Linked DNA regions of Homo sapiens. The protein of the gene in region 3 purifies or fractionates together with the protein of the main gene of each other region. This does not show direct contact. Each region holds a gene or a part of one and is shown on either strand. Other genes may lie near its edges.

Evidence for each region.
Region 1: the proteins of MYSM1 (region 3) and ELAVL1 purify together in Homo sapiens (affinity purification with mass spectrometry, with the first as the bait; one large-scale study listed by BioGRID). This does not show direct contact.
Region 2: the proteins of MYSM1 (region 3) and ARF3 purify together in Homo sapiens (affinity purification with mass spectrometry, with the first as the bait; one large-scale study listed by BioGRID). This does not show direct contact.
Region 4: the proteins of MYSM1 (region 3) and CIP2A purify together in Homo sapiens (affinity purification with mass spectrometry, with the first as the bait; one large-scale study listed by BioGRID). This does not show direct contact.
Region 5: the proteins of MYSM1 (region 3) and ATP2A2 purify together in Homo sapiens (affinity purification with mass spectrometry, with the first as the bait; one large-scale study listed by BioGRID). This does not show direct contact.
Region 6: the proteins of MYSM1 (region 3) and PON2 purify together in Homo sapiens (affinity purification with mass spectrometry, with the first as the bait; one large-scale study listed by BioGRID). This does not show direct contact.
Region 7: the proteins of MYSM1 (region 3) and OGDH purify together in Homo sapiens (affinity purification with mass spectrometry, with the first as the bait; one large-scale study listed by BioGRID). This does not show direct contact.

Annotation. Positions count from the first base shown.
Region 1 is NC_000019.10:7,964,142-7,967,641, forward strand, and holds part of ELAVL1 (ELAV-like protein 1), read right to left. Parts: coding exon 3,424-3,500; intron 1-3,423. UniProt on the Homo sapiens protein: RNA-binding protein that binds to the 3'-UTR region of mRNAs and increases their stability.
Region 2 is NC_000012.12:48,943,988-48,947,487, forward strand, and holds part of ARF3 (ADP-ribosylation factor 3), read right to left. Parts: intron 1-3,500.
Region 3 is NC_000001.11:58,658,563-58,662,062, forward strand, and holds part of MYSM1 (deubiquitinase MYSM1), read right to left. Parts: intron 2,950-3,500; coding exon 2,844-2,949; intron 2,666-2,843; coding exon 2,608-2,665; intron 1,594-2,607; coding exon 1,435-1,593; 3' UTR 1-1,434. UniProt on the Homo sapiens protein: Metalloprotease with deubiquitinase activity that plays important regulator roles in hematopoietic stem cell function, blood cell production and immune response.
Region 4 is NC_000003.12:108,558,439-108,561,938, reverse strand, and holds part of CIP2A (protein CIP2A), read left to right. Parts: intron 1-1,097; coding exon 1,098-1,290; intron 1,291-1,910; coding exon 1,911-1,985; intron 1,986-2,071; coding exon 2,072-2,182; intron 2,183-3,500.
Region 5 is NC_000012.12:110,340,247-110,343,746, reverse strand, and holds part of ATP2A2 (sarcoplasmic/endoplasmic reticulum calcium ATPase 2), read right to left. Parts: intron 3,089-3,500; coding exon 2,753-3,088; intron 1,520-2,752; coding exon 1,299-1,519; intron 516-1,298; coding exon 313-515; intron 1-312.
Region 6 is NC_000007.14:95,404,362-95,407,695, forward strand, and holds the end of PON2 (serum paraoxonase/arylesterase 2), read right to left. Parts: intron 2,708-3,334; coding exon 2,626-2,707; intron 1,887-2,625; coding exon 1,758-1,886; intron 1,128-1,757; coding exon 969-1,127; 3' UTR 501-968; downstream 1-500. UniProt on the Homo sapiens protein: Capable of hydrolyzing lactones and a number of aromatic carboxylic acid esters. Has antioxidant activity. Is not associated with high density lipoprotein.
Region 7 is NC_000007.14:44,697,127-44,700,626, reverse strand, and holds part of OGDH (2-oxoglutarate dehydrogenase complex component E1 isoform 1 precursor), read right to left. Parts: intron 3,258-3,500; coding exon 3,130-3,257; intron 3,024-3,129; coding exon 2,845-3,023; intron 2,436-2,844; coding exon 2,364-2,435; intron 487-2,363; coding exon 358-486; intron 1-357. UniProt on the Homo sapiens protein: 2-oxoglutarate dehydrogenase (E1o) component of the 2-oxoglutarate dehydrogenase complex (OGDHC). Participates in the first step, rate limiting for the overall conversion of 2-oxoglutarate to succinyl-CoA and CO(2) catalyzed by the whole OGDHC.

The DNA.
Region 1 (3,500 bases), on a different chromosome or scaffold from region 3:
GGTAGAAATGCTCTGCAGGCCTCTGACAGCCTCAGTTCTCCCTGGAGGAAACTCTCCTCGTACTGTGGGGTACGTGCAGGGGCTGAACTCCTTTTTCCAAATTTTGCACCTTCCCCTTATCATGACCCGCCCCCAAGCGTTGACAGCCCAGTGGTCTCTGGTTAGAGCACGCCTTTGCCAGGGCCACTTGTAGGGCACAAGAATTCCTTCCCAAGCACCAGGCAACCAACCCTCTGTGGCTAGAGCTCAACATCCCCTGAGGGTCAGGGGCCAAACCACTGAGGACTGAGAACTCAAGGGACAGGGAAGGGCCCTGGGACACCAGCAACGGCAGGCTCACCAAACTTGACCACACACGTGGGGCTCTTTCCACAGTGATACTTTTATTTACATAAAAAATAAGCCTTTCTGGGCCAGGCATGGTGGCTCAAGCACGGAATCCCAGGACTTTGAGAGGCCAAGGTGGGAGGATCACTTGAGGCCAGGAGTTTGAGACCAGCCTGGGCAACACAGAGAGACCCCATCTCTAGGAAAAAAACAAAAACCTCAGAAAACAAAAACTAAACTAAACTAAAATAAAATAAAGCCTTCTGAAAATGTACAGATGCTGTAATAAGGATTAAGGTATATGACAAAACAGTTCCTAAAGCTATGTTTCCCTCTGGAACTTTCTCACATTAAAAAAGTAAAGGTCTGAGGGTCAGTTTGGGAATATCTGAGTAGCATACATTTGTGAAGCCGGCATCTGTGAAGCTGCGTGATGCATGCAGAGAAGCATTACCTGCTCCAAAATAAAACTGGGCTTCAGGCTATGGCCCTATCAGCCAAGCGCAGCCCTGCAGGCCCCAGCCGGGGTAAACGAGTGCCTTCAAGCGCTGTTAAACAGATTCACCCTCTCGACAGACACGAGAGGACACCAGCTGCCATGGGGCAGCTCACTAGCCCAACGGTGATTTTCTTTATTTTTGAGAGAGGGTCTCACTATGTTGTCCAGTATGGTCTCAAACTCTTAGGCTCAAGTGATCCTCCTGCCTCCTGAGCAGCTGGACCACAGGTGTGTGCCACCATGCTGGCTAATTTTTACATTTTTTGTAAAACCATTTTCAGGATGGAAAGACTAAGAAGAAAGGGTCTATGTTGTCCAGGCTGGTCTCAAATTCCTGGGCTCAAGTGATCCTCCTGCTTTGGCCTCCCAAAGCGTTGGGATTACAGGCGTGAGTCAATGCGCCCGGCCTTCTTAGGAATTACTCTTGTTGGTAGTTTTTCTCCTGCTGATTTCTCTGGTCTTGACAGTCATAAATCTTCTCCTCTCTTCCTCCAACCCAATTCTTTTCCATCCCTTATCTCTGGGCTTTTCTGGACGTGATAGGGACTGACTGCAAACTCACTGCAGTCTGGGTCTTTCTTCCTCCTCTTCTCTCAGCCTCCTGAGCGAATCTTTCCCTCCAGACTCTCCCGCCCTCCCCACTTCCTTCCATCACTTTGTCTTAGTGGTTGCCCTGCCACTCACTTTTCCTGCTCGACCAGAAATGTCCACTTCTCCGGTTTCCCCTTTCTTTTCTTGTCCTCATTACTGGGACCAGAGTCCCATGTCTCCTCCAACCTTCCCTGTTTTCCTTCCAGGCTAAGGAGCAGTTCACCCAACCCCACCGCCCATATAGCCCGCCCCATCAAGAGCAGGACCGACTGTATGATGGGATTTCTAGAGCTGGATTTTAAAATTCAGCTCCATTCCGTCCAGAGAAGCTTCCCCAGCCTTGTCTTCAAGCCAGAAACCTCAAGGAAGGCAGGCCAGCTTTGGAATTTGAGCCAGGCTGAGAATGCTGGGTAACTCAGCCATGAGAATAACACCTCTCACAGCAGCATGTGTGGCACTGGGCAGCGCCCACCCAGCTTCACTGTTAAAACAACGATGGGGCCGGGCTCACGCCTATAATCCCAGTACGTTGGGAGGCTGAGGTAGGAGGATCACTTGAGGCTAGGAGTTTAAGACCAGCCTGGGCAACACAGTGAGACCCCATCTCAACAAAAAATAAAAACATTAAAAATTAAAAAAAAAAGGGAAATCTATCCTTGTCATACCTGAGATAAGCCCTCGATGCCACTCCTTGAGGTTTTGACAAAAACAAAACAGCCCTGACACTGAGACCTCTGCTGTTTCTGAGGCGACAGCACACCACATCCTGGAGTCCAAGGCCCTGACTCTCATCGCCTCTATCCCACTTCATCCTGGCAGCCAGAACCATTTTCAGGATGGAAAGACTAAGGAATCCGGGAAAACTCCTCCCCTCTAGGACAGGGCTTATAAACAGAATGCATACATACAACATTCACCAATACAAATGACTCCACGAGGCAGGTGTTTGAAAAAGGTTTGCCTTAGGGCTGCTGATCAAATGTCTAAGAATGCTGGAAGATCTACTCTCACCCGAGTATACCTAAGGCAGCATCTTTTCTCCCACAGATATGAGACGTTCATTATTCATTTATTTTTTAGAGAAAGGGTCTCACTCTATCACCCAGGCTGCAGTGCAGTGGTGCAATCATAGTTCACTGCAGCCTCCACCTCCTGGGTTCAAGCGATCCTCCCACCATGGCCTCCTGAGTAGCTGGGACTAAAGGCCAGCATCACCATGCCCAGTTTTTTTCATTACTTTTTGTAGGAACAGGGGTCTCACTTTGTTGCCCAGGCTGCTCAAACTCGGGGCTTCAAGTAATCCTCCTAACTCGGCCTCCTGAGAGCTGAGATTACAGGTGTGTGCTCCCCCACACTGGGCATGAAACCATCTTTAAAGCTCGCGGCTCCGTTCTGCTGTTACTAGGAACTGCGTGCTGAAGCTCTAAGTGCTCACGCTCACAGCAACTGGTGGGGACTGGTGCTGTCTTTTTTTTTTTTTTAATAAAAACAAAAAAAGACAGGTTCTGGCCCTGTGGCCCAGGCTGGAGTGCAGTGGTATGATCACAACTCACTGCAGCCTCAACCTCCTGGGCTCAAGCAATCCTCCCACCTCAGCTTCCTGAGTTGCTGCAACTACAGGAGCGCACCGCCATGCCTGGCCAGCTTTGTATTTTTTGTAGAGATGGGGTCTCGCAATATTGCCCAGGTTGGTCTTGAACTCCTGGGCTCAATCGATCTTCCTCTCTCAGCCACCCAAGGTGCTAGGATTACAGGGATAAGTCACTGTGTCCAGCCTGGAGTCACTGTTTTGATTCCCATGAAAGACAACGCCCAATCGGAAGTAAACGGCTTTCCTACAGACACCTTTCTGATGGAGGTTGTGGTGTGGAGCTGCAGAATGATTCTGAAACGCGCTCTCTGACGGGATCAGTCTATCATCCCCGTGGTTTCTATTCTGTGGCTGTGCCGTCGCCTGCCAGCGGGGCTAAGTATGGCTTTCAGGAGCGCGCACCCTCCCGACCCACCTGAATCTCTGCGCCTGGTGGTGAACGGGGCCTCCGAACCGTCGCGCTGGCGAGTGGTACAGCTGCGAGAGGAGTGC
Region 2 (3,500 bases), on a different chromosome or scaffold from region 3:
TCACCAACCTTGGCAATTTGTAGTAGTGACTTTTGGTCATACTACTAACACCTCATGAAATTTAAACCTTTCCCAAGTCTTCCTAGTCTTCTAGCCTTTATTCTGCCTCTTGCTCAGGCAGCCTTTCCTTCAGCTCCAGATGACACTTTGCTTTAAAGGTTTGGTATCAGGCTTTGGCCCAGATTCTGAATTAAATTTATGCCACACATTTATCTTGCTGTCCTTTATGACTGAAACTATTGCTGATTAAATGCTTACCAACTGTGAGTATAGTGGTGGCTGAAAAAGATATAACTAGCCAATATGCCTTGCCCCAGAACACAGGTACACTGTCCTTTGATTTGCTTCTTTGCTCGGCTGTCATGCTGAAGTCCTGGTTCAAAAGCTGATCCCAGTGTTACACCTATTATTTCCTGGCATGCCACATCAAGGCCTTACTTTGAATGACCTTAACCACTCAATGTGGCACTTACTACCTTGTCGAGTTTTTCTTCTTTTATAAGTCTGTGTATTTACTGCTTCCCACGTTAAGCTGTGTATTCCCTATGTGCAAAGACTATGTCTACTTATTTTGAATCTGTCCTCCCTCTAGTGCCAAGTAGATTGTGGGAGTTCAATTAAGCACATTGGCTGATTTAAGCCTCATCTGAGGATGTCCTTATATTATTTCTTCTGTCCAGTAGGATTTGGTATCTCTGTGTAATGCACAGCGAGTTGCTTAGCTATCCTGTCCATTCTCAGCCATTTTCCACACATATTTGACGCAGGACTGGTTTGGGAACAACATAAAAGGACTAGAAGACTAGAATTGGTGGGATTCTCTCTTGCCATTTAATATACAGTGGGACTGATGAATAACTGATAAAATATCTAAATAGCTGGCCAGGCATGGTGGCTCATGCCTGTAATCCCAGCACTTTGGGAGGCTGAGGTGGGCGTATCACCTGAGGCTGGGAGTTTGACACCAGCCTGGCCAACATGGTGAAGCCCCATCTCTATTAAAAATATAAAAATTAGCTGGGCATGGTGGTGCGCGCCTGTACTCAGGAAGCCGAGGCAGGAGAACCGCTGGAATCCAGGAGGCAGAGGTTACAGTGAGCTGAGATCATGCCGCTGGCACTCCAGCCTGGTTGACAGAGGAAGACTCTGTCTTAAAAAAAAAAAAAAAAAAAAAAGGCCGGGCACAGTGGCTCACGCCTGTAATCCCAGCACTTTGGGAGGCTGAGGTGGGTGGATCACCTGAGGTCAGGAGTTCGAGACCAGCCTGGCCAACATGGTGAAACCCCGTCTCTATTAAAAACCCAAAAATTGGCCGGGTGCGGTGGCTCACACCTGTAATCCCAGCACTCTGGGAGGCCAAGGCGGGCGGAACACGAGGTCAGGAGATCGAGACCATCCTGGCTAATACAGTGAAACCCTGTCTCTGCTAAAAATACAAAAAAATTAGCCGGGTGTGGTGGCTACTCGGGAGGCTGAGGCAGGAGAATTGCTGGAACCTGGGAGGTGGAGGTTGCAGCGAGTCGATATCATGCCATCACACTCCAGCCCGGGCAGACAACAGCAAGACTCTGTCTCAAAAAAAAAAATTAGCTGGGCGTGGTGGTACATGCTTGTAGCACCAGCTACTCCAGAGGCTCAGGCAGGAGAATCGCTTGAACCCAGGAAGCAGAGGTTGCAGTGAGCCGAGATCACGCCACTGCACTCCAGCCTGTGTAACACTGAGACTCCATCTCAAAAAATAAATATCCAGTAGCTATCATGTATCTCCCTGGCACAGCCCAGGACCTTGAAACTAATGGATGTTATGACTCCTCCTCTTTATTTATTTATTTTTTTTGAGACAGTCTCGCTCTGTCACCCAGGCTGGAGTGCAGAGGCAGAGGTTGCTCACTGCAACTTCTGCCTCCCAAGTTCAAGTGATTCTTGTGCCTCAGCCTCCCGAGTAGCTGGGATTACAGGCATGTGCCACCATGCCTTGCTAATTTTTATATTTTTAGTAGAGACGGGGTTTTGCCATGCTGGCCAGGCTGGTCTCAAACTCCTGGCCTCAAGCAATCCACCTGCCTTGGCCTCCTGAAGTGCTGGGATTACAGGCACGACCCACCACGTCTGGCCATGACTTTTCTTTAAGTATAATCTGGAGCTTGACTTAAATGAGCATTTCAAAGGGGATGCTGGCTTTCTTGTCTTGGTTTTCCCTGTCCCTTGCTAATACCAGAGAGCATGCTGCCCTACCACCAAGATGGTAGCAGCTTTCTGCTTTGTGCCATGAATACAAATCTCTGGCTATACAGCCTATTCTCACTTTCACAATACATTCCTAAAAAAGCACTAGGAAGCAGAATGGCAAAGCAAACAAACCATGAATTGTTTCTCCATGTATTATATAGCCTATAGTTACTCTCTTTCACCACAGATGGTACTCCTGTGTTTATAGGGCAAAATGCCAGGGTTCCATTGGCTGTTGGATACCAAGAATAAGCAGTTAAGACTGAAAGTGAGTGGCTCAAGATGAAAAATGGAATATACTAACATCTCTGTTAAAAAGATATCTGCAGGTTCTGTTTTACAGTCAGAAACTTTATTATCACAGGTAAAAATAACAATAGGAACCCAAATATGTGCTCTAGTACAATCTGTGTGGGACACTGTAGGAATTCAGTTAAGCACATCAGTTGATTTAAGCCTCATCTAAGGATATCCTCACTTGAGGACAACTCACTGCTCCCACCTCATCCCCCCAGGAGAAGCAGGCTGTTGCTGTAACTGGCTACTCAGCCATCTTTCCTTACATATGTTGCAGGAACGTGCCTGCCTCAATCTCCAGGTGCTTTTGAGAGTCACACATCCCAGTCGGCCACACATACTCCCTCTACCTGATTCCAGTGAATGATCCAAGAATGTGCTATGAGACACCTCTGAGGGGACTCCTGATCTGGCACTACCTCCTCCTCTTCAGCGTCCAGGGGAAGGAAGACCAGGGTCTCCCAAACCCTCTGCTGCCAGGCAGAGTGCAGTAAAAACAGCTTTGTTCTTAGATAATTTTCAAATTGAAATATCACTAAGAGATGCTATTTTTAGCACAGCTAACCAAACAGACCAATACAATTTAAAGAAACAAAAGCAGAGTACGCCCGTACTGAGTTTTCTTGGTGCAGCTGGCTCGTGACCTGTGTAAACTCCAAGTTTTTGTCTCAAGAGCACTGAAATCAGAACATAAGAACTCCTAGATGATATCTGAACTATTTCGACTAGACTTAAAGATTTCCCAAAGTTAAGAAATAGCTTCTGATACCAGCTTTCATCCATTCATCAAACTTTTTTTTTTTTTTTTTTTTTGAGACAATCTCGCTCTCTCGCCCAGGCTGGGGTGCAGTGGCGCAATCTCGGCTCACTGCAACCTCCGCCTCCCAAGTTCAAGCGATTCTCCTGCCTCAGCCTCCCGAGTAGATGGGACTACAGGCGCATGCCACCACACCTGGCTAATTTTTTGCATTTTT
Region 3 (3,500 bases):
CTTCTTCCAATACTCCTTATTCTTCATTGGCTATTGATTACAAACAAAGCAAAATATAGAATCAATCTGATTTAGATATAAGGAAACGTTAGTAAGAATGTTTGGTGAATAGCTATAAATCAATTCTCTGACTACTAAGAAATAAACTAAAATCTACTGAATTTCAATAAATGAGGCAGCATTGACTGCTTATTTTATTTTAAAATTGGCTTAAATGCAGATCATAATTCTGAGTTTTGGTGTCATTTGAAGATGACGTAAAGCTTAACAAATGTAAAACAAAATTCTAATGTTTAAAATTCTCTAGATCAAGGGTTGGAGAATAATAGCCAACAGCCTATGTTTTATGAGGCCTGTGAGTTAACAATGGTTTTTATCATTTTAAAGGGCTGTAAAACACACACACACACACACACACACACACACACACACAAAGAAGAATGTCTCATAGACATCATATGTGGCCTGAAAAGCCAAAATTATTTACAAACTGGCCCTTTACATTAAAAAAGTTCACTGACCTCCATTATAGATTCAGAAAGCATATGAAACTGGGCTGAATATGTAACATGTCCTGAAAGGCTTGTTTTAAAAATTAAATCTCTGATTTATTCCAGCTTTATTATCATTTGCCTCTTTCTCCTAGTAGTAGGCAGTAGAAAAAAAGTTTGAGTTATGATTACCTATGTTCCAGTTAAATGAGGTTTTATCACACCTACTAATGTAAGTGGACTCACAATTGAAGCTAATTATTTTATGTGTGTAAAATTGGTTAAAAATTTTCAGATAGCTGAGAAAATGGCATATCTTATGATACTACTGCTATACAATGAAATGGAAGATAGTATCTATGATTAGAAACTGGTAATTTAGTTCTCTCCTTTGGGTTTTTCCTGTTTTTAAGATTTTCTTGTCATGCCTCTCCTGGTCTCCTGTTAGATTTATTAATCAGTAGTTCTAAACCATATTAATTATCTCAGTGACCACCCATCCATATCTCATTTATAGCCATAAACAAATCTCAGCAGAATATATGGAAAGAATGGAAGTGCTTTTAAATGAAATAGGAGATACCACAATGGAACATAAATGACTAGTTCAGGGAAGAAATGACTTAGAGACATAGTCCAAATCCCAAGCTGAACACAACAGTAAAGCCGACCAGGTTGCTTAGTTTCACAGCCTACAGCATTGCTCAGTAAAGGACTAGAACACCGTGGTGGACCCTGGTTTGCAGAACACTCTGATAATCACTATATGAAAACAAATTTGTATCTCTTCCTTTTCACATGATTTATGTGGCAAAGTTTGGATTTTGTGAAATAGAGAAAAAATACCAAAGCTGTGCCAATGTTAACTACAATCACTTCAAGTTTATAACTTTGAAAGTAAGATCTACTGTGTCAAGATTAAAATGTCTTAACTTTAAAATAATCACATTAACAATTCCTTTGTACAGTTCTCTTCGGTTACTCCATTCTCTTGGTTGCTTTTATAATTGGAAAGGAACAAATTTTCTATTTCAGTCAAGAATTCTTCAGCCATAAAGCAATTGGTCACTTTGCTCAGAGTCTTCCTCATACACTCCAAAAGCTAGTTGAAAAGAAAAGTTTTATATTTAAATACAGAAAAAGTATGAGGGTTTGCATTACTATCACTATTTCGTCCCTTTCCAGACCTCACATTTCCTAATGCTCAAATGAGAAACACTCTCCTTAAAAATGGTTGAAGATTAACTTGTGTTTAATAGTCACAGAGCTGGAATGTAGGAAATTGCTGCTGAGGAACACTCAGCTTAGTACTTTTATGATTTTACATAAGGAGACAAACCTGAGATTGTTTATGTGATGCTTTCTACTTCGGACGTATTTGCGACTTTTCTCCATTTGTAGTTACACTTACAAAGCAAAATAATCCTGAGTATACACACACACAAAAATCTAGGTACATAAAAACATAGGATTCTGCATTTCAAAATGAGGATGCTAGCTGGAGTCTATTTCCTTGGAAATGTGCACATACTTTTTCAACAACACACAAAAAACTGGATATAACAGAAAGGAGTAAAACATATTAAAAAGAAACTTAATGTTTAAATTTTCTATCCCCAATTGCTATTTAAAAAGACAAATGTTGCAGATCTACTAGCCTTCAATCATTACAGAAGCAAAACCTAGACGTGAACTGACAGAATTCAAAACTCTTATTTCCTATTAGAAAGTTAAATAAAATGACTATTTAAATTTAATTGTTAGATTTATACCATCATTCTTAAAAATGACCAATTGTTAAGGCTAAAATGGAAACATGGCACTTTCAAATTTAATAAAATAAGAAAAATGTTCTCCATTGTGTATAATAATAATCTGCTAAAATCAGCCAACACTGACAAATTTATTCTAAAATAGAATTTTTTCTATGTGCAAGCTTGGGCAACAAAAAACGTTACTAATTATCTCCTAGAAATTAATTTTCCAAAGGAAAAAGTAATAAAAGAAATATACAGAAAATTATCCACAAAGTATTAGGCATCATGGGAAAACACATTGAGATGAATAGCTTCAGAATCTGTGAACAATGGAACCAATTAAAATGAAGACAGCTTACTTTCTGCAAACAAGTCAGGTCAGAATCCCGGCGAAAGATTTTATCCATGGGGACGCTGCTGTAGGAAGAAATATGAAAACAAACTGGTGAAACGAATACTATAAACTAATCAGTTTCATAATAAACTATCACGGATGCCATACATCACAATTTTATATTTAACTTGGGTTTTCTCTGAAACATAATTTAATGAGCAACACTGCAGATGTGCAACCATCTCAAACCACAGTACATACCTATGGGAGAGCCTGTATTTTTCTATTATCCATCTTGTCTTTTCAAATACTAATCCCCACTGAGGTTCTTCTAACATCTGCTGTACTTCAAATTTGTAAGGTAAGCCTAGAAAAGCATAAAGAAGCACATTGTCATCAACTATTTCTTAACTCTCCAATCTCCTTTTAATTATACTTAAAATTCCCTTCGGTGTTTTTACAGCCATAGCTTTGCAGATCAGCTGAACAGCACTTTAAACATAGTGGGCATTCATTAAATATTTATTGCCCGATTGTACTTGGTCCACTAAGCATATTAATGCCAAGCTATTAATAATAATAATGAGTAAAAGTGCCATTTACATGACAATTCTACGCATGGCACTATGATGGGATGATCACGTAATTTATCACCTAAACCAAGAGACTTTTTGAATGAAAGAAGGTACTATTAATAATTATGCCTGAACCGCAGGTTTAAAGTGGGATTATCCTAGACAAACTAAGACATATTGCCATCCTAGTGATAATTAAAAATATATATATATACAGGTTATTAAGCTTACAACAATGCTGTAAGTTATTGTTTTTTTTTTAACAGGTGAGAAAACTGAAGCTGAGATACATTAAAAATCATATTTAGGCTAGCAAAGTGGCAGGACACAGATGTTAAAACCC
Region 4 (3,500 bases), on a different chromosome or scaffold from region 3:
GGGGAATCTGCAGCCTCACTGAACATGGAAGTCTTATCCTCTGCCTCTGTGTGTGAGGCCTTCCCACCATTTTGACTGTGTCTTGGCATTCCCTGTCTTATTTGTGTTGTAAATAATTTTCTCTTTGGGCATTATCTCAGATGTCCATTTTATGCTTACTATTTAATGCCCTTATTTGACATTATCTTGGGCGTTTAATAAACTGAATGTATATTATGGATGCATTGGTAGGTAGGGTTTTTGTGTGTGTGTATTTACTTGTTTGTTTTCGAGACAGGGTCTCACTCTATCACCCAGACTGGGGTGCAGTGGTGTGATCATGACTCACTGCAGCTTCGACCTCTGGGGCTCAAGTGATATTCCCAACTCAACCCCCTGAGTAGCGGGGACCACAGGCTTGTGCCACCACAACTGCTTAATTAATTTATTTTTTTATAGAGGGGTCTCACCAGGTTGCCCAGGCTTGTCTCGAACTCTTGGACTCAAGTGATCCTCCCAAAGTGCTGCGGTTACAGGTGTGAGCCACCATGCCCAGCCTATAATAAATTAGGCTGAGTGCCTGCCATCTTGCAGTTTGCACTTTAGTTAAGAGATAAGTGAAAAAAATATTTTGTTTTGTGGTAGAAAGCGTGTTCCAGATAAAGGAACAGCTCATATGAAGGCCTGAGGTAGGAGAAAGAGAGGATTTTAAAGGGTTAGAATGGAAGTCAGGTTGGTGAAAAGTATGTACTGAGTGAGAAAGGAAAAGGACTAAGGACGTAAAGGCCAGGTGATATCACCCATGATAAGAACATTATTCTGACCAGTACCAATAACTTTGTACTTATTACAGATAATCCACACTCATAAACTAGTCTTACAATGCCTCCAAACCAGAGGTGAAGCTGTCATTATAAAAGGTTAGAAACAGAAAAGTGGGTGCTCTGGAAAATTCAGAATATTTCCCAAGACTTCATTTCATCATGGTCTCCAAGATTATTTGAAGACTTCTATTCAAAAAAAGGACCCATTCTTAAAAATTCCCTAATTCTGCACTAAGTCTGCCTTTTCTTCTATTTTCGTATAATTTTTTTTTCCTTTCTTTGACTCCCATTCAGACTTGGAGAAAGTATAGCAGCAAACAATGCCTATAGACAACAGGAAACAGAACATATACCCAGAAAAATGCCCTGGCAATCATCAAATCACAGTTTTCCAACATCAATAAAGTGTTTAACTCCTCATTTGAAAGATGGTGTTCCTGGATTGAATATTGAAGAATTAATAGAGAAACTTCAGTCTGGAATGGTGGTGAGTGAAAAAATAGCAATTATAACCTGGTACATATTAGCTATATGTCAGTCCCAATTATAACGTGTATCTAAACACTGTCAGGTACAGATTTCACTATTGAAACCTTAATATAAGAAATAACAATATTCTGGAAAATTTGGAAATAAGAAAAATCAGTCAAAATTTCAACATTTTGCCGGGTGCGGTGGCTTACGCCTGTAATCCCAGCATTTTGGGAGGCCAAGGAGGGTAGATTGCCAGAGCTGAGGAGTTCAAGACCAGCTTGGGCAATATGGCGAAACCCCGTCTCTATTAAAAATACAAAAAATTAGCTGGACGTGTTGGCTCATGCCTGTTGTCTCAGCTACTCTGAAGGCTGAGGCAGGAGAATCACTTGAACCCAGGAGGCAGAGGTTGCAGTGAGCCAAGATCATACCACTTCACTCCAACCTGGGTGACAGTGAGACCCATCTCAAAAAAAAAAAAGAAATATTTGTGACTTACCTGATGTAGCATTTGTTTTTATTTTGTTACTCATCATTAAGTTTTAATGATTTAGTTTTGAAGTAGGCATTTATTTTGTCATTGTGTCAAAATATTTTATTAAAATTTTAAGTTTTTTTACTCTTAAAATGTAGGTAAAGGATCAGATTTGTGATGTGAGAATATCTGACATAATGGATGTATATGAAATGAAACTATCCACATTAGCTGTGAGTATAAGCTTATTTTAACAATGTGTAATAAGCTTTAATAGATGTATTCCTAAAATGAAAATTAATGATATGTTTTCTTGTAGTCCAAAGAAAGCAGGCTACAAGATCTTTTGGAAACAAAAGCTCTAGCCCTTGCACAGGCTGATAGACTGATTGCTCAGCATCGCTGTCAAAGAACTCAAGCTGAAACAGAGGTGTGTAGAATATAAAGACACATCTGATTTGTAGAAAAATTAATAAGTAAAACATGCAAAATATTAGTTATGTATTTGTTACTCTAATTGAAGTAAATTCTCCTTAGCATTTGACATGCCTCCTTCCTTCTTCCTGAAATTCTGTCCTCTTTAATTTTGGTTACATCGTTACCTGATTTTTTTTTGCTACCTTGTATTATTTTCCTATGTTATTTATTTTGTACCTTTAAGTGTTGGGGACTCTGGGACTTATATTCTAAACCTTTTTCCTTTAGTTATGTGTTCTGTGGTTTCAATGGTTACCAAAATAGTAATGTTCCTAATTTTATATGTCAAGCACAGATCATTTTCCTGAGCACTATGTGCCTATGTTGCTCCATTTAAATATACAGCAAATACCACAAACTCAGCATAACCAATAATGAACTAATCACCCTTCCCTTTTTAAAATTATTCTTATGTATTCCCTCTTCTGTTTTTAGTGTTCTACAAATAAGAACCCTGGAAATCACAGTTTTTACCTCCTATAATTATTCACCAAGTCCAGTTGATTCTACCTTCTAAATATTACTCTTTTCTGCCCTATCTCTGCTTCTACCACTATTTGTTATAGGCTGGATCCTTTTCATTTTTTGTATGAATCATAGCAGAGCAATTAGTCTTCCTACCTGTAGTCTTCTACCCTCTTCTCAGATACTCTACAGCCAGTCATCTTTCCTTGGTTCTACCCCCTTCACCTAGCCGCTCCCCCAAGGATCTCTAAGGCAGTAAAATGATCCTGTCCCTCTTGTGCTGAGTATCTTTCACAGTAGCTGCTATTGCTTTCAAATATCATTAAAATTCTTTAGTTTGGCATATAAGGATTCTAACTATATAGGCCTCAATCCACATCTTTCATTTCTGCGCATTCTTTGCAGTCAGCCATGTTAGGCCACTTTGCTTTTTCTGAAACTTGACATATTCTCGTATTTCCTTGTCGTGGCACTTGACTTTCCATGTCTGGAACACCATTTCCTCTCTTCTGCCTAACTCATAATCCTTCAGATTTCAGTTAAAATATCCTCATTACCCAGAAGCCTACTCTGGTCTCCTTCCCACACGTGTTTGACGATCCTTCCTCTGTGTATCAAACCTACGCTTATCTCTTAATAACATTTTTCAAACCACGTGGAAATTCTTTTTTCCCTCACTCATGGTATCAAAGACTGCTTCTATAGCTCCAGGCCCTAGCATAGCACTTGGCACATAATAGGTGCTCAGTAAATTTGGCATTGTATTATGTACATATATAATGTATACCTTAAGAGTGAACTTACTG
Region 5 (3,500 bases), on a different chromosome or scaffold from region 3:
ACTCTTGGAAGGCAGAACCTAGCGTGAATCATTCTTATCCCTTTGCACAGAGGGCTCAATCTGAAAACCCTGATGTTTAATTGCTCATTCAGAAAAGCCCAAGTAAGGGCAGGATGCTAAAACTGGAACTAACTGTGAAAGGACTCTGGTAAATTGGATGTATAGTTCATCGAACTGTAAGAGGGCATCTCTGTCTTTTGCTACCCTATACGGGGATAGAAGAAAAAACACGCTTTTAAGGGATGAATTTACAAAATTTCAGCTCACAAACATTTTGTTTAAAAATCAGTAATATAAAAAAATTGTACTCACAGCCAATAGCCAAGTAACGGAAAAAGAGCCACCCGCTGATCAATGGTTCCTTTGGGTTCCGGGGAGGTTTATTCATGATGTCCAGATCAGGAGGGTTGAACCCCAGTGCAGTGGCAGGCAGGCCATCTGTCACCAGATTGACCCAGAGCAGCTGAACAGGAATCAAAGCCTCGGGAAATCCAAGGGCTGCTGTCAGGAAAATACTGTTTCCAATCAAGAAAAGAAGACAAAGAGAGCCCAAATGACTTCTGGCCACTATTTAAAGAGCATCATCAACCCGCCCTCCTCCAGAAAAATAAATGACAACAACTTCAGGTAATCTGTAAAATACTTATACCCAATTTTGAATTAAAGCTCAATTTTACTTAGTTTATTACTTAAATTCAGATGACTGAGGCCAGGTGCGGTGGCTTATGCCTGTAATCCCAGCACTTTGGGAAGCCAAGGTGGGCAGACTGGCTGAGCTCAGCAGTTAAGAGACCAGCCTGGGCAACATGGTGAAACCTCATTTCTACTAAAACACAAAAAAATGGCAGGGAGTGGTGGCGCATGCCTGTAATCCCAGCTGTTCGGGAGGCTTGAACCCAGGAGGTGGAGGGGACAGTGAGCTGAGATCGTGCCACTGCCCGAAGCCTGGGCGACAGCGAGACTGTCTCAAAAAAATAAATAAAAATAAAAAAATTATTAAGCTGACTGAGATAAAGCCAACTTTTGGAGGGCAAGAATTTCATGTGACTACCTGGTTAATGTTAGCTCAGTCTCACGTTAAAGAGGATTCTTTGCACATTGGGGCAGCTGCAGACAACCCTCCCGAGGGCCAAAGCACCACTGCTTCCATAAGGCATTTCTGTCTTGCCCACTCCCCTCTTCCAACTCAGGCACAAAGACCAAAGCTGCTGCAATCTGGAGAGCAAACTGCGAGAACTGGGCTCCATGACCCATTTAGATAAAGGCGTACAGTAAGTGATGCTGTCACAGAGACCTACCAGACAACTTCCCCGACGTTGGACGAGATGAGGTAGCGGATGAACTGTTTCATGTTGTTGTAGATTGCCCGCCCCTCCTCAACGGCAGCCACAATGGTGGAGAAGTTGTCATCCGCCAGGACCATCTCAGAGGCGGTTTTAGCCACCGCAGTGCCAGAGCCCATAGCAATGCCAATCTCGGCTTTCTTCAGAGCAGGAGCATCGTTCACGCCATCGCCAGTCTGAAAGGGAAAGCAATGGTTGGGTCAGCCAACTGGCATGCCACATTCATACCCCTAGGCAAAAGCCCACTGAATGGGAAGCAGGAGGAAAATGAATAGAGCCGTAGGTCTCTTGGCAAAGAGTTTTAGAATTTTTGTTTCATAAGTTGGTGTCACAAAACACATTTTACCTAGGAAATGTAAAATTACCAAATAAGTTTACCGAAGTGGGACAAAGGGGACTTCAAATTTATCTGTATTATCTTACTAAAAACAAAAACACAACCTATGTGGCAGTCAAGAGGAAGCACTTGTATCCACATGGATAAATTTCAAGTAGAAAGATGCAGATTGCAAAAATATGCAAATTTTTATTTTTCTGAGATGGAGTCCCGCTCTGTCGCCCAGGCTGTAGTGCAGTGGCGCAGTCTCGGCTCACTGCACGCCTCCTGGGTTCAAGCGATTCTCCTGCCTCAATCTCCCGAGTAGCTGGGATTACAGGCGCCCACCACCACACCCAGCAATTTTTTGTATTTTTAGTACAGACGGGGTTTCACCATGTTGGCCAGGCTGGTCTTGAACTCCTGACCCCAAGTGATTCACCTGCCTCGGCCTCCCAAGTGTTGGGGTTACAGGCATGAGCCACTGCACTCGGCCAAAAAATATGCCTTCAAAAGCATGCAAAAATAATACTGTCTACAGACACAAAAACAGCACTCCCATGTTTTTAATATTTTTGCTAAATTCCAACTTCAGTTACCTCTGGGGGAGAGGAGAGTACACTTATAGTATGTTTCAAAACTAAGATTTTTTTTTAAAAGAGAAGAAAGTAAATTTAACATAATGTATCTGGGTGAAAATCAGGTGAGGGGAAGAATACTGGAAATGCTTCATCAATAGCCAGCTCTTAAAGAACTTAAAAGCAGGGTGATCCAAACAACTGACTGATTACATCCTCAATTTTCAGAAAACTTACAATAAAAACACGTCTCATTTAAAAAAGAGACTAGATCACCAGATTGTTCCTCTGGGACTGATCTGGAAGGCCCTTCTGGGTTTTAAACGACTCTAGGATCTTCCCTGCAAGTAGCACACAACATGCTAACCACTGATTCACCGAATTCTAGAGAAAAGACCCAAATCATGACAAATTCCAAATTAGGGAGCTATGACAAAAAAATTCAGTGGTCAAAATTAGAGGCTACTATGTGCTTGTGTAGCCTGAGTCACCTGTACATGTTCAAACATGCTCACCATAGCTGTAATCTCATCAAAAGACTGAAGAAATTCTACGATTTTAGACTTGTGGGAGGGTTCAACTCGAGCAAAACAGCGGGCGTTCAGGCAGGCGTCTCGCTGGGCGGAGGGGTTGAGTTCATCAAACTCCCGGCCTGTGAAAGCTTTTGACGTCACGTCCTCATCCTGCCCGAAGATGCCGATGCGGCGACAGATGGCCACAGCAGTGCCCTTGTTGTCCCCAGTGATCATGATGACCCGGATGCCTGCTTGCCGGCACAGCTTCACGGAGGAGGCCACCTCGATTCTCGGAGGATCCAGCATGCCCACGCAGCCAACGAAGGTCAGATTGGTCTAAAATAAGAGCATCACTTTAAATAAAAGTGGCAAGTTCTAGTTTTTGTCCCCTAGTTTGAAAAATGCCCAGTTAAACATTGAGACAGGTTTCTGCATTTTTTTTCTTTTTTTTTTTTTGAGGCGGAGTTTCGCTCTTGTTGCCCAGGCTGGAGTGCCATGGCGCAATCTCAGCTCACTGCGACCTCCGCCTCCCAGGTTCAAGAGACTCTTCTGCCTCAGCCTCCAGGGTAGCTGGGACTACAGGTATGCGCCACCACACCTGGCTAATTTTGTATTTTTAGTAGAGATGTGGTTTCTCCATGTTGGTCAGGCTGGTCTCAAACCCCCAACCCCAGGTGATCTGCCAGCCTCGGCCTCCCAAAGTGCTGAGATTACAGGCATTTGAGCCACCGTGCCTGGCGGTTTTTGC
Region 6 (3,334 bases), on a different chromosome or scaffold from region 3:
AGTAAAGTGGTTTGATAAATTACAATGGAAAGAAACACATGAAAGTCTCTCTCTAGGGCTTATGATGATTTTATAGGAGGTACAGTGAGCAGAAAAACTCTCCCTCTGTGAGCTGGGCACGCGGCCCTGATCCTAGCATTGCTGCTGCTTAACCATGTGGTCACGGACGACTGACTTCATTCTCCTGGCTTTAGTTCACAGTTCTGTTCAATGAGGAGGTGGCAAGACCTTCCTGTCCCAACCCTTATTTCCTCTTTGTCTCTAAAGTGGACTCCCATTAAGGAAGAGAGCTGATGGAAACCTCCTTAGGAACTGGGAATTTGAGTTGCAATATTTCATTGATTTTTGTTGTTGTTGTTTCAAATTAAGAGTCCATTCACTTTCAGCTTTCCACAAGAGAAATTAATATGGCCATGCTTGCCTATCCAAACTCCATAAGGAAGCAGCTGCTTTCCCATTTCTCCTAGCCATATGCCTTCAGAATTAAACACAGACAAAACTGGGATTTTAGTTAGTCTTTAATATAACTCCAACTTTTTAATGGTAAACAAAGATGTAAGTACAAAACATCAAAATACGTTATCAGTAGTTCTAAACAGCCATAGTAGTCACAGTGCCAGAAGTGAGGTCACTCACATTTTAAGGAAATATAATTCACTCTATTTCAGTGGAATCCATGTTCTGGCAGTTGGAAGGCAAAGGTGAGGCTTACTTTGTGCAAAATGTATTCACTTTATTCGAAAGCAGCTTTCTTTTCTGTCCCTTGCTTGGCATTTTAAAGAACCTGTTCATTTTCCTTTTTTGTTAAAAGTGCTCTAAGAACTAAAAGGGCCGTTCCTTACTGGAATAAAATTAACTACACATGCCATACATTTCTGGGTCAATGTTGCTGGTTAAATTCCCTCAGAATTAGCAATTCATAGAAAATTAATTGTTAAGTTATCGCACTTTCATGCCAAAAGTACAATTTAGAGTTCACAATACAAGGCTCTGTGGTATAAAGTGCCTATGAGCAGCTTCCCATCATACACTGAGGCTACAGAACTTCCTTGGAGAACAGACCCATTGTTGGCATAAACTGTAGTCACTGTAGGCTTCTCAGATAGAATGTTCTGGATGCGGAGAACCTATTCAGGGGATACAAAGTATGAATATAAGACCACCGTACATGCATGTCACTCAATCATCAATAAGCCCTGTTTTCCACAATGACACACTGATTAAGGGGACATGCTGTTGAAAATAGCAGTTACCAATCTTTTTAATGTTTAAATTAAAGTACTTTCTCCAATCTTCAAAGAAAGTACTTTCTTAAAACCATCTAGTTATTCCATGCCAACACAGGATTTAGTGTTATTATAGCAATTCAGCTTTAATAGAAATACTTTCATACTAATGTGCCTACTTTCACACTACTTCAACATGAACAAATATCACATCATGTGGTGAGCTGACAATAAATCAGATATTTTAAAAATTGCCAGTATACCACCCAAGAAGGGCACATGTCTTTATAAAAATGCCTTTTGACTAGTTTCCACCATAATTTAATACATCAAAAGATTACCTTTCTTAAAGTATTTGAACAATGTAACATTCTGCCAATTATTGGCTTAACGCAATTACAAAACCACGACATAAGCTTATTATATTATTGCTTTAAAATAACTAAACAAATCATCCCTGTGACAATTTATTGTATTATTAGTTCAAAAGGACTTGAATAATTAAGTTTAAAAAACTGAAAATATAAAAACCTCTGACGAGGGAGGATTGTTCGGGTCATACACGAAGAGCTTCTGGCCATTAGGATGACAGCCTACCCAGATGTCCCCCGAGGAAGGATCAATAGATAAATTATCCACCAGTGTATCCAGCTCAAGTACCTTCCAAATGAGAAATTGTCAAAATCTAAATGACATGAGAAACTTGATTAAATAATTTAGAGGTAACCTTCCTGCCTCTATGCATGTGAGGAAATTACACATCGCCCTGCTTCCACCTTCTAACACCAATATTGCTTAAAAGGAATGTATTAAAAACTGGTTTGGAGCCACTTTTCTTCTTCCCTGAAATTAAGAAAGTTAGGGTGATAATCGGTCTCTGTAAAAATCTATCTTAAAAACTGAACTCCTTTTCCTTTAAAAGATGCACAATGATCAGTTAGCTCAAGGAACTCAATCAAAGCAAGATAGGAAATTCTTAATCAACCTAAAATATGTGTTGTTGAGTAGGAAGAAAATAATAATGGTGTGGAACCCAATTTCTACCTTCATGTATTATTGAAAGAACTGACACTGTGCATAAACCTTCATTTGAGAATTCATCTATTAGTATTTTCAATTGTGAAAATTCTTATTGGAATTCTTCCACTGCCATCAATACTTCATGGAATGGGCCCTAAATCTGATGAATATCACTCTCAACCTGCTGCTGCATGTAATCATGGTCAGTTCTTGAGATCGCTGGAAACAGGAGCTTTCTCTAGTTGTAGGGAGTATTTAAAAACCCAGAATAGCTACACTGGCATCCATATTTTGTTCTACGTGTGGTACTCTTATAGAAAAACTATGTCATTGCAAAGCATAATAGATTACTGTCTATATGTAAAAATAAATATTTTACCTTCAACTGAGTTAAATTCATATTAGTGTGTTTTTCCAAAACATGAATTTCATGAGCCAATATGTCAGCAACATAGATATACCTTTGCAGAAAGGACACAGTGGTTAGAGCTCCATGCCAATATAAAGCTTCATTAATACAGTGTGAAAGAATAAGTCTTAATAACCTGCCAAGAAGTTAATCAATCATGGGCCCTCAAGGAATGCTTGATAAAGGTCAATTTTTATTTAAAAAGTAAGCTTTCAGAATCAATTCAGTGGTGCTACAACAATCATGGAATTATTAAATTGTTTTTCAAAAAGCTTGTAAGGAAAAATAATATAGAACATCATTTTGAATATGAAGTCCATATTTGCCACTGAAATGACAATAAAACAAATGCTTGGCTTCAGAAGAAAAGCTTTTACATTCCACAATATAATTTGATACTTCTAATTATCATGTACATATAGAAATATATGGTAAAGAACATCTTATTAAAATAGTGATCATTCCTTAATATTCAATAAAATATTTATTAATACATAGCGAATTTTAAGAGTAAGAGATAAGTATCAATGCAGAATAATCTGTCTACTTCAAAGGTGAGTGAATTAACAGACTATTTTGAGGTAATTTTACTCATTGAATTGACTTTCCATGGCACCTGCTCTGTTGAGCAATTATGTGTGAAAAGCCATGAACTCAGTGTTGCAGCAGATATAAACAT
Region 7 (3,500 bases), on a different chromosome or scaffold from region 3:
CTTGGCCTCTGCCAGGGCTCACCTCTCTTCCAGAGCTCAGCACACCCCCTATGACCACCTGTTCAAACATCCGTCCTCCCCACCGGGCTGGGGCCTGCAGCCTATGTGATTGCTCCGCATGTGGTGCTCAGCAGTATGCAGGGGCCCAGTCGGGGAAGAGGACACACAGAACACGCAGTTCCCTCATGGCAGCAGTGAGGAGGAAGGGCGAGGCTCCCTGACACCATGTCCTGTCCACACTACCCCTGCAGGTGCCCACCTAGCTAACCCCAAGCAAGAGGCTCTCTGAGGAGCCCTTCCCTGCACCAACAGGGCAGGGCCAGGCCTCGTTTGAGCAAGGGAGGCCCTGCCACTGACCGGCTTCCGGAATGGCAGCAGGATCTGGCGTCGTAGCACGTGGAAGAAGTTGCCAGGAGTGGAGCAGTTGACAACAACCCAATTGCAGTCATATAGCTGATTGATGTCGAAGTTGGCTTCTTTAAGGTCCTGCAGCAGGGAAGGAAATGGCCAGAGGCCAGGACACAGCACTGAGTCTTCTGGGGCATGTGGGGGCCCTCAGGTGATCTAGTTTGGATATTTGTCCCTGCCCAAATCTCATGTTGAATTGTAATCTCCCACTGCTGGAGGTGGGGCCTGGTGGGAGGTGTTAGGATTAGAGCTTGGGCCATCCCCTTGGTGATGAGTGAGCTCTCACTCTGAGTTCACACGAGATCTGGTTGTTGAAAGTGTGTGGCCCCTCTCCCCCACTCTCTTACTCCTGCTCTGGCCATGTGACATGCCTGCTCTCCCACTTCATCTTCTGTCATGATTGTAAGCTTCCTGAGGCCTCCCCAGAAGCTGAGCAGATGCCAGCATCATGCTTCCTGTACAGCCTACAGAACTGTGAGCCAATTAAACTTTTCTTTATAAATTACCCAGTCTCAGGTTTTTCTTTATAGCAACACAAGAATGGCCTAACACACTGACTCCCCAGGAGACATAAGCTGACACTAACAAGTGAGTCCAGCAAGCTCCTTCGGCCAGCCTCATACCCTGGAGGAGAGCCTCAGTCCCACTCAATCCATACTATTTCTCTGAAAGCTATTGCCCAGCATGAAACAAATACCACTTTAAGAGACACAAGTTCTACCTAAAACCAATTTTCCTTAGACACTGACACCTAATCATTTTCTTTGAGTTTTTTTTTTTTTTTTTTTTTTTTGAGACAGGAGTCTCCCTCTGTCGCCTAGGCTGGAGTGCAGTGGCGCAATCTTGGCTCACTGCAACCTCCACCTCCCGGGTTCAAGCGATTCTCTGCCTCAGCCTCCTGAGTAGTTGGGACTACAGGTGCCCGCCACCACGCCTGAATAATTTTTGTATTTTTAGTAGAGACGGGGTTTCACTATATTGGCCAGGGTGGTCTCAAACTCCTGGCCTCGTGATCCACCTGCCTGGGCCTCCAAAGTGTTGAGCTTACAGGCGTGAGCCACTGCGCCTGGCCAGTTCTTTTTTTGTGAGACGGAGCTGCCCAGGCTGGAGTGCAGCGGCACAATCTTGGCTCACTGCAACCTCTGCTTCCCGGGTTTAAGCAATTCTCCTGCCTCAGCCTCAGACTAGCTGGGATTACAGGTGGGCGCCACCATGCCCAGCTAGTTTTTGTATTTTTAGTAAAGACAGGGTTTCACCATATTGGCCAGGCTGGTCTCAAACTCCTGACCTCATGATCCGCCTGCCTGGGCCTCCCAAAGTGCTGGGATTTCAGGCTTGAGCCACCACACCCAGCACAGTTCTTTTTTTTTTTTTTTTTAAGACAGGGTATTGCTCTGTCACCCAGGTTGGAGTGCAGTGGCACGATCTTGGCTCACTGCAGCCTTGACCTCCCAAGCTCAAGCAATCCTCCCACCTCAGCCTCCCAAGTAGCTGGGACTGCAGGCGTGCACCATCACGCCCAGCTACTTTTTAAAATTTTTGTAGAGACGGGGTCTCACCATGTTGCCCAGGCTGGTTCTTTGAGTTCTTAAAGTTTCACTGGAATCGCCCCAAAGTTCTCTCCTCCTCAGGGCTTCCAGACCTGAATCAGGGTCTGGAAGCATCCCGCAGGAGCCCTTGCTGAGGAGCTCACATGGCGTTTCTGTGCTTGCAGCAACAGCAGGAAGCCAATGGAGGCAGTCCCTGCACCTTCCTCTGTGCTCTGAGGAAGTCTCTCATCCCAGGGCGCCCAGAAGCATGGGGCCACACCTGTCCACTCACGTGAGCTCCCCAGGATGGAGAAAGGGACAGAGGCACGGTCTGCCACTTCAGGATGACCAGATAGATTGCTCTTCCCCAGGTTTCCCACCAGACACCCCGAGAATGGCTGGGCTGACAGGGCCTGTATTACTCACTGGCAGGACATCTGGGTCATCGTTGCACATCTGCAAGAACCGCTCTGGGCGGGCGGAGGAATGTTCTGGACCCTGGAACCACACACGCAAGTTACAGTTTAAGAGCTCTTGCGTACTGACATTTGCCGCATCTGCTGTTCCTCCTCAACCAACTAGCTCATTTCTGGTTATCTTTTTTCTTGATGGCAGGGTTCAGTTCCTTCCCCCTCCCACCAGCAAAGCACTTGGCTCATCATTTCCACACTTGGACGCCTGTGCATCTAGGGAGTCTGCACCAGCAGGGACGGGGCATGCTAGCCACATCCAGATGGGCTACTCTGGCTTTCTGAAGTGACATCCCATCTGAGATGGATGGGAAGCACCAGCAGAGTCCTTAGGAGGCTGGTGTGAGCCACTGGCTCTCGTGCCAGTCTTTGGGGTCAGGGTCCTACACAGGCCCTTCCCAAGTCCTAGGTCTGGCAGGGAAGGGCCAGAGGCTCACCATGCCCTCCATGCCATGGGGCAGCAGCAACACGATGCCATTCTGCCGCACCCACTTGGCTTGTCCCGGGCAGATGAACTGGTCGATGATACACTGGGCCGTGTTGTGGAAGTCACCAAATTGGGCTTCCCAGAGGACCAGGGCATTAGGACTGGCCATGGCGAAGCCCAGCTCAAAGCCTACAAGGGACAAAGGAAGGAGAAAACCATGTCCAGGACACCAGCCAGTAGGCCCAGCGGGGGTGGGTGGGTGACAGGCCCTGGTGGTGTGGCTCCAGGCACTCACCCAGCACGCCGTACTCAGACAGTGAGCTGTTGCACACAGTATAGGGGGCCTGATTGGGCCAGAGATGGTTCATGGGGATGCAGGTTCTCTTGTCCACATTCTGGTCATGGAGCACATGGTGGCGGTGGCTGAGACAGGACAACAGAGGTAATAATTAGGAGCTCTGACTTGACAAGCAAATACGCTGGGGACCCGCACGAAGCACCAGCAGATGCCATGCTCTGTGACCTGGACTTCTGGCCAGGCAGCTGCAGGGTCGGCCCCACCCAGGTCTTAACAGAAGCACCCATAGCAAATGAGGGACAGAGGTTTTCAGCCTGAGAGCAATGTGACTCTTCCGGTTTCTAACCGTCTTCCGGAAAAGAAACACC